Linked DNA regions of Homo sapiens. The protein of the gene in region 1 purifies or fractionates together with the protein of each later gene. This does not show direct contact. Each region holds a gene or a part of one and is shown in the gene's direction. Other genes may lie near its edges. The genes, in order: AFG2B, FMN2, DHX32 and CCZ1.

Evidence for each region.
Region 2: the proteins of AFG2B (region 1) and FMN2 purify together in Homo sapiens (affinity purification with mass spectrometry; 2 studies listed by BioGRID and IntAct, with this or other methods). This does not show direct contact.
Region 3: the proteins of AFG2B (region 1) and DHX32 purify together in Homo sapiens (affinity purification with mass spectrometry; 2 studies listed by BioGRID and IntAct, with this or other methods). This does not show direct contact.
Region 4: the proteins of AFG2B (region 1) and CCZ1 purify together in Homo sapiens (affinity purification with mass spectrometry; 2 studies listed by BioGRID and IntAct, with this or other methods). This does not show direct contact.

Annotation. Positions count from the first base shown.
Region 1 is NC_000015.10:45,405,284-45,408,857, forward strand, and holds part of AFG2B (ATPase family gene 2 protein homolog B), read left to right. Parts: intron 1-36; coding exon 37-222; exon of another isoform or gene 223-229; intron 230-1,745; exon of another isoform or gene 1,746-1,940; intron 1,941-3,574. UniProt on the Homo sapiens protein: ATP-dependent chaperone part of the 55LCC heterohexameric ATPase complex which is chromatin-associated and promotes replisome proteostasis to maintain replication fork progression and genome stability.
Region 2 is NC_000001.11:240,098,366-240,101,939, forward strand, and holds part of FMN2 (formin-2), read left to right. Parts: intron 1-3,574. UniProt on the Homo sapiens protein: Actin-binding protein that is involved in actin cytoskeleton assembly and reorganization. Acts as an actin nucleation factor and promotes assembly of actin filaments together with SPIRE1 and SPIRE2.
Region 3 is NC_000010.11:125,857,267-125,860,840, reverse strand, and holds part of DHX32 (putative pre-mRNA-splicing factor ATP-dependent RNA helicase DHX32), read left to right. Parts: intron 1-865; coding exon 866-1,238; intron 1,239-3,574.
Region 4 is NC_000007.14:5,922,668-5,924,900, forward strand, and holds part of CCZ1 (vacuolar fusion protein CCZ1 homolog), read left to right. Parts: intron 1-719; coding exon 720-878; intron 879-1,167; coding exon 1,168-1,295; intron 1,296-2,233. UniProt on the Homo sapiens protein: Acts in concert with MON1A, as a guanine exchange factor (GEF) for RAB7, promotes the exchange of GDP to GTP, converting it from an inactive GDP-bound form into an active GTP-bound form.

The DNA of each region.
Region 1 (3,574 bases):
CTTCTTCTTCTTTTTTTTGTTTTGCTTTGCATATAGGTGGTCATTGGGACTCCCACACTTAAACAAAGAAAGGAAATTCTGCAAGTGATTACCTCGAAGATGCCCATCTCCAGTCATGTTGATTTGGGCCTTCTTGCAGAAATGACAGTTGGCTATGTTGGTGCCGACCTGACAGCACTCTGTAGGGAGGCTGCCATGCATGCCCTCCTTCATAGTGAGAAGGTAAGAAGTGTTAATTTATGAACATCTATGTTAATCTATTATTGTAACAGATTAATTTGGGGGTTAAAAAAAAGCGGTGAGTACATTTTCCTTAGAACATTTGATAGCTTCCACAGCTGTTGCTTATACATTTTACATCTCAACTCTATATAAATAGTATATGATTGAGGGTGGGGATAAAGGGCTGAGTCCTCTGGGTCTACTGAGTGAATTTGTTCCCTACTCTTATAGTAACTCCCTAGTGCTGAAGCCCAGAGCAGCCAAGAAATAGTGTGGCCCCAGAAGAATCAAAGAGTTTTTTTAATTTGAATTTTTTTATTTTGAGGCAATTTCAGACTTAGAAGTTACAAAAATAGTACAAAGAGTTTCCATATACCCTTCTCCTAGATTCTCCAAATGTAACATTTGCCACATTTGCTTTATCATTCTCTCTTCATGTGTATTTCCTTATATATATACATATATATAATGAAATATTTGAGCATATACTACATCCATGATGCCCCTTTACCCGCGAAAACGTAAGTGTATATTTCTGAAAAACAAGGACCTTAACCACAGTATGATGATCAAGCTGAGAAAATTAACGCAGACATAATACTTGTACTTAACCTAAATAGGCCTTAATCTAGAATCATACTTCAGGCTTTCTTCTATGAAAACATAACTTTTTAAGAGTCAGTTATTCTGTGGAATATTCGTCAGTTTGGGTTTGACTAATGTTTCTTCATGATTCAATTCAGGTTTTGCATTTTGGGCAGGAATATAATAGAAATGATCCTGTGTCTTTCTCATTGCATCTGTTAGGCAGCACATGATATGTTTCTGTTCTATCACTGGTGAAGTTAACTTTGATTTCTTGGTTAAGGTGGTGTCTGTGAGATTTCTCCATTGTCAAGATACCGTTTTTCCCTTTGTTATTAATAAGTATCTAGTGGGAGAAATAAGCTTTTCTAACCTAGGAGAAGATTGGGCACTTGGAATTGTATTTAAATTTGTCCTTGATCTGCAGGTCTGTAATTCATGACTATTTCCTAACAATATTTAAGATATTAGATTAAATATAATACTTTTCAACTTTGTTGGTTGTAAAATCCAGTATTTTGTATATAATAAATAGTCCTGAATCCTTAAACCCATTCAGGAAAAAACTGATTTCAGCAGGCTAAGGATTCTGAAACAGAGTTTTCAATCTCATTTGTAACATCAAAATTGTCTTTTCATCTTAAACTGCAAAAGAATGATTTATTATCCTAAATTTTGAAAAACCTTTTTACCTAAATAATTTATACCTTGCCTCACTTCCTTTCCTTTATTTCTACAGTTACACCGAAGGTGGGGAGGAGTTATGTGATCTTCTAGTTGATCTTTTAAGTCTTCATCTTGTAGGTTTAGACCAAAACTACTTGAAGTTTTAAAGTTCTGTGTGTAAAGATGTGAGAATAGATGTCTTTTGAGGGAGACAATAAGTAAGCAGGAGATGGGAAGGGAGATTTACATTCAGGATTTCCTCTGCTTTGAAGTTCCAGGTTTGACCATAAGCACCTCTCACTTAGGTGGACCAGTCAGCTGCTGTCGTCCCAGGGTGGAGCCCACTGCTACTTCAGGAGGGGCCTGCTCAGGTGTAGTTACCACAGGTGATGGCTGAGTTCAGAAACAACCCAGGGGAAGTGGAAGGAAGAAAGGCAAAAAGCATGAAGGGACAGACAACTGGGAAGGTACTGGCTCCATCTTTTATTCTTTCCCCCACCAGCTGAGGGGCTGCTGCTACCTCTCCCTGTACCAGGGCAGATAAGGGATACCTTACACTTTGTTAAACTTTTTGTGAAGTATTCCTATTAAAGGATTAGAACTGTAGTTTAACACTCAGACACACACAGAGGGGAAAGAATGTATAAGCCCAAAGAATCAAGTAAAATAATGTGTACACACATGATCTTGAACTATAAATGAGATTTTCAAATATTAGTTCGTGTTACCTAAAGATTAGTTAATATTTGGACATCAGACACCTAACATACTATCAGCCAGTTAAAAAGGCTTTTTTTTAAGTATATAATAGGGTTATTCATGAGAAATGAAGATAGAAAATTATAAAGAACTGCCTACCTGAAATCTCACTTTCCAGAGATGACAATTGTTAACACTTTTGGGAGAATACTTTACAGAATAGCTCTATACATACAGATTCACTTAACATCTGTTTACAAATAAGAAAAGACAGTTTGTTTTTGAAAACGGGAATTTGTGGACAACTAGATGTTTAGAATTGGATATAAGAGGGCAAATACTTTAATAAATACAGTACAGATATTTTTAATAAAATTTTCAGGACTTTTTAACTAACAAAAAAAAATGTGTTTCACTAGAATGATCAAGGAGAATGTAAAGAGTCTCCAAAATATAACCTGAGAGTGAAGACGACTTCTCTAGGCATAACATAAACCTTAATAGCCAAAAAAGAGATTATTTGCTGAGTTGACCATTTGGGGGTGGCAAAACAATACTATAAAGTAGTCAGACTAGGAAAAATACTTTTAGTCCAATTTCCTTGATAGGGAATGAACAAATCTTACAAATCAGTAAGAAAAGACCAACAGTCCAAGAGAAAATGGGTAATGGGGTATGAACAGGTAGTTGACAATAAAAGGAATGACAATAAACATGAAAGATGTTCAACCTTGATTTCTTCTAAAATTATTGTCTTTATTTTGAAATAATTAAAACTTATAGGAAAGTTGCAAGATAGTTACAAAGAACTTCCACTAAACCCTTTATCCAAATTCACCAATTTTTAACTTTTTGCCAAATAAGCTTTATCATTCTCTTTTGCTCTCCTTGCTCCCTCTCCTCTTCTCTTTCTCTCTCTCTCTGTCATCTCCATATATATGTATTTATATGCACATAGTATTTATTTATTTTGGACTATTTGAGAGAATGGGTTGCATATATCATGACACTTTATCCCTTAACATTTTAATGTCTATTTCCTAAGAACAGAAATGTTCCCATATGTCACCACAGTATGGTGATGTATAGTGTTGTGTCCTTAGAGCCTCACATGTAGAGGCACAGAGTGTACATTGGTTCCTCATTGGTGATGCTAACTTTTATCAACTAGTTCAGGCAGTGCGCAGTTTCTCCACTGTGGAACTGCTATTTTTCCCTTTGCCACTAATGAGAAATCTGTGGGGAGACACTTTGAGATATCCTGCTCCTCATCAAACTTTCAGGCTGGGCACAGTGGCTTACACCTGTAGTCCCAGCTGCTCAGGAGGCTGAGATAGAATGATCACTTGAGCCCAGGTGTTCGAGGCTCAATGAGCTGTTGCCTCAATGCCACTGCACTCCA
Region 2 (3,574 bases), on another chromosome or scaffold:
TGCTAGGAGGCCTATCTTGATTTTTATATCAGTAGAGGGAAGAACCCACTCTAGGAGTACACATTTTCTCATACGGCTTGGTAAATTGCTACATTGGATTTTTTTAAGGCCAGGAGTAGTTTGATTTCCAGCAGAGCCCCTGACAGAGTATAGATGTCCAGTTAATGTCTGACGAATGAAGGTCAGAATCTGCCTGATACGTATAAAATGTCTTATTATAAAAGGAAAGGGGTTTATATGAATGCTATGCTTTCCCCTAAATACTGCCTTACTGGGTTCCATATATCAGAGAAGAATTTGGCGATGTAAGCGGGGACCAGAACACTGATCTTCAATCATTTTAGATGGGTCTGAAACATCCTTTCTCATGGTTTCTTTAGGCCTGTGGTTTGGATTGAAGTCAAGTGCACCAGTAGCTTCAGGGATGGGTTTTAATGACTGCTTTATGAGTTGAGGATGGGCCTAGTTTTAAGAGCTTTAGGCGTTTGGATATAAGCCATGCGTATTTGAAATGGAGCAGGTACTTTTAGTGCTTTTCCTTCTGATTCTTCTGAAAAGATACAGAAAATATACAGTTGGATGAAGGTAGCAGTAGTTATTCTAACTACGTTTATTCTAGGTATATTTGCAATCCTAGTTTTGCTGTTTAGCTAAGTGAGTCTCCAGTAATTTTTCCTCATATCTATGAAGGTAGAAGAATAATTTCAAATTAATACTATTAAGATGAAATGAAATAGCATACATAAAGCCCCTACAATTCTGCCTGGTACATGAGAGGCACTTAACTGGGGCTATTTGCTCTCCTGACTGGATTTATTATCTTAAAAAAAAAGTCATTGTTCAAAGTGATCAGAGCCAAATTTGTTAAAACAACCCTGAAATTGTATACAAAACTTAGCAGGATATGAACTGACCAGATACTAGTTGAGCCCCAGTTTTGTTTTGTTTTGTTTTTTTTTGCAAATTGTTTATGTATTATTTTTTCTTTTTTTTTTCTGGAATTGTAAGCATTTTGTCACTTATCAGATATTCTGTGGTGGGGGGTTGGATAAGAAAAGCATATGATGGGGTGTGGCTGTAAGATTTGGGGGAGGGTGCTGCTTTCCAAAGAAGGGGTGGGAAGAGGAGGCGGTAGCTGACACCCTCAGTGTTTCTGCTCTGCACAGCATCTGGCTGCAAACCCCTGACTTTGCAGCTTTACCTTCCCACGGTCTCCTTCATAAATGCTCTACTTTACACTGTTTTATGAACATGCATTTCATTTTCCCGACTTTGTGCCTTTGTCTTGCAGCTTTACCCTCTTGGAATACATGATTCGTCTCTTTTGCTTTAGCATTTGAAAAGTGCTGATTGAATTCCGTTTCCTCTTTGTATCTTTTCCAGCCAGACCTTACTGGCTGTCATCTCACTTTCTCTGTACTTTACTGTCTAGATCATATTATATATGCTTCTTGGATTTAGGGATTCTTCTGGTCTTCTTTCTTGCCACCCTCTGCCTTTCCTTCCTCCTTGCCTGTTCACCCGATTCCATCCATCCATCATCTCCTCTCCTACTAATCTGTCCACAGATATCTCTTCCGTGCCTTGCTCTGTGCCTGTCAATATGTGTAAAGCACCGACTGTACTGAGGTCTTGATGAATACTTGCTCATTCACCATTTTTGGCAGTGATATAGACAAGTTGAGTATCCAGGCTTCCTACTGGCAATTAAAACTAGTTGAATTGAAGCTGGAAAATTGCTAACCTTTCTGGGCAGTCAAAATTAATTATTTTCAATGAGGTGTGATTGAATCAATGATACTTTATAGAACTTATGTTGATAGAAGAATAGCTATTCTTGTTTCTGCAGGTTAATGTTAAAATAGTAATGACATTACAGCAACTGACCTTCCAAATATAAATGTTATTGTAATGAAAGAAGAGGTAAAGGGAATAGAGAAAATTGTATTCCTCTGTTCATTCCTGTTTTGTATTCTAAGTACTAACCTAATGCTAATAAAAGTTAGCATTAAGGAACCATTAGGAAGAAACAAAAATGTACTGCCTGTGACTTGATAGTTATTAGATATCATTTTAGTGACAGTAGAAACTTTCTAAGGCTTTTTTATCTTAAAATATATGGAAAATATGACCTCAGTCAGTTCGGAATGGTAGTAAAGCAAGGTAGTCATAACATCAAAATTCTAAGAATGAGTAACAATTATTTCTGGATGCTATAATAAGATGCTAACCACACTAGAGATTTATTATCCTTTTGATACCTACTGCTCCACTATGGGTGAGAAGGAGGGAAGAATTTATGTCTTCTTCCTTTGTAAAGATGTACTTGGAAGTGTTGATTGGATAGGAAAATTACTGCCTCTATTCTGTGATCCAGTCAGGCTCCAACCTACCAGGAACCCACTGGAAGCTTTATTATCTGTTACCCTAGAGCTGCAATGGACTGAAAACAGTCCTATTGTTTTCAGGAGGAATGGAATACTTTCTTGAGAAAATCAAGCCTATATTATGTTTCAAAATTATGCTTAAAAAGGCTTAGGCACTACTCAGTTGAGTCTTTTTTTGTACTTCATGCAGAAGGGTTCTTTGTTGTAGTACCTGGTGATAGAGTGGACACATACAGGAAGAAATTCTGTGTCATTTAAATGGTTGTTTTAGGTACGCAGGAGGGGAAAGAATGTGTTTCAGTAAGCTAGTGTCAGCACTATGGGAAGAGTGCAGGCTGAGAACAATCTATTTCCCTTTTCCGTTTTACCACCAGCTTCCTATTAGGGCACAAGGCAATCATTTCTTGCCTCTTGTTAATACCCTGGCTTCCCAGATTGGAAGAGTGAATGCAATCTTGCTGGGAAGCGTCTTCCTTCAAGTCAATTTCAGCACTGTGGTTCTATAGATATGGTGATTCCAGCAGGTACCTTTTCTCCCTAATAGGGATGCTCTGTGTATTTAGAGCTTTCCTTTATTGGTAGAGCTGAAGAAAATTCCTATGCCGGAAGACCCGTTTATACCACGGAGTAATTGATGGTGAGAGTGGTGATGTTTTGACTTTGATAGTTTTGATCAATTTTTGATTCATGCTGAAGGAGATTTGCATTGGTTAGACTGTCATTATCTGACAATAGGACCGTGTGTGTGTGTGTGTATGTGTGTGTGTGCCTGTGTGTCTGTGTTGTGTGTGTGTGTGTTTGAGACAGGGTCATGCTCTGCCACCCAAGCGGGAGCGCAGTGGTGTGCTCATGGCTCACTGCAGCCTCAAACTCCTGGTCCCAAGCAATCCTCCCACCTCAGCACCTCAGCTTCCAGAATAGCTGGGACCACAGGCGTGAGCCACTATGCCTGGCTAATTTTTTTTTTTTTTTTTTGGAGAGACAGGGTCTCACTATGTTACCCAGGCTGGTCTCGATAGGGCCTTGTGTTTTTGAACACTGATATAATGATTATGTATGATGGTTGATCGTGTGTTATGAAAATGTATGAAATGGAAAGCTATGTTATATAATGTATGGCTCGAAGATTTAGAATATATGAAGGCTTTCTAATATTGGCACAAAATATACTGAGTCATTACTTTTAG
Region 3 (3,574 bases), on another chromosome or scaffold:
GAGCTTGCAGTGAGCCGAGATTGCGCCACTGCACTCCAGCCTGGGCGACAGAGCGAGACTCTATCTCAAAAAAAAAAAAAAAAAAAAATGGGATTGGTTTCTTCAAGCAGTAATACAGGTAAATATGTAAATAGTGTCAGAAAGTTATTTTCATTAAGCTTAGTGACTAATAGGTGGTTATTTTAATTTTAAAAAATCATCCCAAGAAGTATGGGAAAAGCCCATTAAAATCACTAATGACCTCTCCCCACTCCAGGAATTCTAGCCAGTTTTCATGCTGCCCTTAAATAGGTGGTTACTTTTTAGATCCTTCTGTTTGCTTATTATTTGGATGACATCTTAATGATATCATCTCTCACAGTGAATCACCAATAATAGTGTCTGTCCTAACAGTGGGCTAGCAGGACCATGAGCCTGAGCCAGGATGGTTATTCTTGTATCCTTTCCTTGAAAAGTGTATAATTTTACTCAAAATTCTTTCATTGATGAATTCGAGAGGAAAAATTGACCAGGGTGTTTTATGATACTACTTTTTATGTATAAAGCTCAGAACAAAAGTTAGATGCAGGCTTTTATTAATATTTGTAATAAACATTTAGGCAGAGGTCTTTAACTTAGGGTTCAGAATGGTCTTTGTAGGGGGCAGTCCATGAACATATACAAACTGGGTATAAATCTTGTTTATCTGTGTTTTTTTGTGCTATAATTCTGTAGATTGTATCAACTTAAAGGAATTTTGGCCCCAGTAAAAATTTAGAGTTACTGATTTAGAGAAATGAATATAGGAAAGGCATTTTTCTTGTTAGGAAGTTTTTTGCATGAGTTAGCATAAGAATATTCTAACTTTAATGTTTCTTCTTTATAGGTATTGTACTGATGATATGCTGCAAAGAGAAATGATGTCCAATCCTTTTTTGGGTAGCTATGGGGTCATCATCTTAGATGATATTCATGAAAGAAGCATTGCAACTGATGTGTTACTTGGACTTCTTAAAGATGTTTTACTAGCAAGACCAGAACTGAAGCTCATAATTAACTCCTCACCTCACCTGATCAGCAAACTCAATTCTTATTATGGAAACGTGCCTGTCATAGAAGTGAAAAATAAACACCCTGTGGAGGTTGTGTACCTTAGTGAGGCTCAAAAGGATTCTTTTGAGTCTATTTTACGCCTTATCTTTGAAATTCACCACTCGGGTGAGAAAGGTGACATTGTAGTCTTTCTGGCCTGTGAACAAGTAAGTAAGTGATACTCTAACCTTACAGTAATAAGGTATTTCATTTGGGAAGCTTTTAATAACTAACATACAGGTTTCAGTTTGCTAATTAACTGTTTAAATATTTGGTTTCATCACACCTCATTAAATAAAACCTGTGCTGAAAGGAGAACAGGAAGTGTTTCTAAAATCACATGCAGTTCTGAAAACAAAATATGGGTGAGGAGTCTCTAGACATGATCTCCAGAGCCAACTTCCCTCCAGCAGGCTCAGGCCAGAGAGTGGCTGCCCCAAAGGCACAGCTGGCTCTATTTATGCTTGCTGTGAATTGTCTCTTGGTACAGTAGGTGCATGCCGACTCCCCTGACATTCTCCACTGCCTCCCTGTGAGCAGGTGTGTTTGTTGGAGATCAGGACTATTACCTAAGCACTCACCATAGAGTTAAGTAACACAACATTTCCCACAAGCAGTCCTGTGATAGTCAGTGGAGTATGGGCAGAAAATATAGCCCACCCGAAAAGGTCATCTCCCTGGACTGGGGCTCCATTCTTAAAAGATTAAAAAAAAAAAAAAAAAACAAACAAACAAACAAAAAAAAAAACCTTTAACTCAGATTTCTTTAAAACATCTCTTTAAAAGAATGACTGGAAATGTGCAATCAAGCATCATTTCCATTCTGTTACTGCTTTTAGACAGCCAAGGTACCATTTGGGGTTGCATTTTTTTTTTAAATTGCAGCTACACTGGCCCTATTTCTTTCCCCACTACTCTGTTGGCTGAATCTAAAAGCCTCCAGGATCTCCAGAATTAGACCTCTCTTCATGGAGACTAATTGCCTGGCCTTTTTTCCCTGTCTTCTCCCACAGAGAGGAGAAGCATGAGTTTTTAGACCATGACCCATATATGTAGTGGTTCTACTCATTAAACAGAAACCAAAAAGGAAATTATTTGATGTAGGCTGAGCCACAGCTGAACAGATAAGTGGCTCAGCTGTCTGTCAGAGCCTTTTCTTGAACATCCACATATTTCAGAAACACTTTCAGAAGTATTTATTCTATTTTATACTCAAAGCATAAAGGATGACAGCTCCTTCTGGCTTTGGGAACTTTAGTTTTCTTAAATGTATCTGTTTCTAGAACCTCAATATGACTGCATATTTATCATTTTTTGTATGTATATGATATACATTCTCTTGAATAGCAAATCTGCCTATTACAGTGATTTATTCTGTTATCATCTCATCCTGCATGATTCAAGATATTCAAGAAAGTCCTGAGGAAAATAATAAAATGATTACGGAGACATAGGATTTATGAAAACAGTTGGAGGTTCTCAGTGTAAACAGATGAAGCCTAAGGAAGGGAAGAATGGCAAATCTAATATATTTGAGAGTCAGAATTGCCAGGTGAAAAACAGGACGTAGGCCGGGCACTGTGGCTCACACCTGTAATGACAGCACTTTGGGAGGCTGAGGCGGGAGGATCACGTGAGGCCAGGAGGTTGAGACCAGCCTTGACAACATAGCAGGACCCTATCTCAACAAAAAAATTAAAAAATTAGCCAGGCATGGTGGCTCAGGCCTGTAGTCCCACCTACTCAGGAAGCTGAGGTGGGAGGATTGCTTGAACTAAGGAGTTTGAGGCTGCAGTGAGCTATGATTGCACCACTGCACTCCAGCCTGGGTGACAGAGCAAGACCCTGTCTCTAGAAAAAAAAAAAAAATGAAAAATTAAAAAAAAAAAACCAGGATATACATTTCTGCAAGAAAAAAATGCAATTAAGACTGATAGGATGGGTGTAATCCTTCAAGTCAGGGTAAGCAAAAATTCCTAAATGGATTTGGAAATGGATTTTGGATCTTGGAAAATAAAGCTCATAACAGAACTGAGGTGCAGATGGTCTTAGAGTACATGATTCTTATAAGTTTAATATAAACTATAATTAATTGTAGAGTGACTTTTGAACTGTCAACTTTAGAACATGCATCATTATCCAGGCTGGTAGTAGAAACTGTAAATGCCACAGGACTTGGAGAGGTATGTAATTTCCCCTGAAGGCAGGCTGGAAAGGCATTCCTATTAAGAAACCATCAGTCTTGCAGTCTTAAAGTGAGAGTGCCATGAAAGCTACCAGAGGATTTTGTAATTCTGAGCCTCTGTGACCCAGGCGGAGCACTGGACCCTCTAAAGGTGAGCTCCTCATTGTTCAGGGGCTCAACAGCCGACCTGCCCTGTGGGTGGGGCAGCAAGCCAGCCACTGACATTGGGCTGGCTTCAGCAGACTTTACCTGGGCACCAGGTTTCTTTCTCCTGCTTCAGCCTTGGATTCCACAGGTGTTATCTGGTTTTCCTTACCC
Region 4 (2,233 bases), on another chromosome or scaffold:
CCATTTAAAATGTTCATCAGACTGCAGTGGAAAAGGCGACTGCGTTTTACAGTGATGTCCACTGGGGATGATATGAGGGAAAGCTTCGTTACATAGTGTCGTAGGCTTCCCTCATGAGGCAGGTTAATTTCCACGGGACACTCATTCCCCGCACTGTGGGAGGAACGAGGTGTTACTCTCCTCAAGCAGGGGTCAGCAGACTTTTACGGTAAAGGACCCAATAATAAGTATCTCAGATGTCACGGGCTGTATGTAGATACGTGTTAAAACTACTCAACTGTCATTTTGGTGGGAAAGCAGACAGACAACACATGAACATGTGGCAATGGCGAGGTTCCCGTGAAACTTTGTTTAGAAAAAGAGGGCCAGGGCCGGGCGCGGGGGCTCACGCCTGTAATCCCTGCACTTTGGGAGGCCAAGGCGGGTGGATCACAAGGTCAGGAGATCGAGACCATCCTGGCCAACATGGTGAAACCCCGTCTCTACTAAAAATACAAAAATTAGCTGGGCGTGGTGGCGGGCGCCTGTAATCCCAGCTACTCAGGAGGCTGAGGCAGGAGAATCGCTTGAACCAGGGAGGCGGAGGTTGCAGTGAGCCGAGATCGTGTCACTGCACTCCAGCCTGGGCGACAGTAAGACTCCATCTCAAAAAAATTTTAAAAGAAGAATCTAGTTGTATCCGGCCCGAGTGCTACTGTCTTCGTGACATGTTTTCACAGGTCTGAGAAAGAACCCCAGTTTAAGTTTATCTACTTCAACCACATGAATCTCGCCGAGAAGAGCACAGTTCACATGAGGAAAACGCCCAGCGTGTCGCTCACTTCCGTGCACCCGGATTTAATGAAGATTCTCGGTGACATCAACAGTGACTTTACCAGGTGATTCCAGCCACTTCTCCAATCAGGCGTCCCCTTTCTAAGACGAGAAAAGACACAGAAAATCCCTTCAAGCCCTTTCCATGGGGTTCAAGCGTGAACCACCTTCATGGGCGCCGCTTCCAAACAGACCCGGGAGCCCTGAAGTCACCGGTTCCCTCGCGCGGCACTCCCTGAGCCTTTTAAATGCCACGTGCGCCCGTTCCATTTCCTGTTCTTGGTTTGGAACGCTTATTCTCACAGTCTGGCCGTATGAGTAACGAACGATTGCATTTTGACCCTCGTCTTGCAGAGTGGATGAAGATGAGGAGATCATTGTGAAGGCCATGAGTGATTACTGGGTTGTTGGAAAGAAGTCTGATCGGCGGGAGCTCTATGTTATTTTGAATCAAAAAAATGCAAACCTGATTGAAGTAAATGGTAAGTAGGATTTGGTATTTCAGGAGAATTTGAGAAGTTGTCTTTTCATTGCATTAAGAAACATGGTTAAAAAATAGGTAAATAGAACAAATCATGACTGTTGAGATTCTAAGCAGGTGCCTCTGCTCCACATTTGATCCATTTTCTGTTCCTTGGAAAACTATGACAAGACCTTCCTGTAGCACAGGAAACTTGGCAATGGCAGAAAGAAAATTATTTTCTACAATTCTAAAAAAAAAAAAAAAATGACTTTATATTAAGAAATGTCCCCCTTTTTTTGGAGACAGGTTCTCACTTTGTCACACAGGCTGGAGTGCAGTGGTGCAATCATAGCTCACCACAGCCCCCAACTCCTAGGATCAAGCAGTCCTCCCACCTCAGCCTCTAGAGTAGCTGAGACCACAGGCATGTATCACCAAGGCATGTGTCACCAGACCCAGCTAATTTCTTTTTTTTTTTTTGAAACAGAGTCTTGCTCTGTCGCACAGGCTGGGCTCAAACTCCAGGCCTCAAGTGATCCTCTGGCCTCCCAAAGAGCTGGGATTACAGGCGTGAGCCACCTTGCCCAGCCCAAAATGTCCTTTTTTAATATCCTGTGATAAAAACATATCTTTTGTAGGGAGAAGCTGCCGGGTTCACGTAGCCGTTTACAAGTATCCCTCTGTACACAGGCAGAAGGAGGCAGACATTTTCTCCTGCCTTCCCGCCAAAGCGGCCAGCCTTGCCCACTGCACGGGGTGACCCGGCAGCTGCGGTGCTGATAGCTCGGCTGCCCTGGAGAGAGGGGACCTCACCTCGGCAGAGCTGCCCCCTTGGGAGATGCCCCACGTGTACACTGTGTGGAAATTCAGTGTAAGCGTTTTTTTCCCCTTGTATCTTGGGCATACTACATTTTTCTCTTTATTAGTAATACCTGTGTTAGTCATTGTGCGCACTAG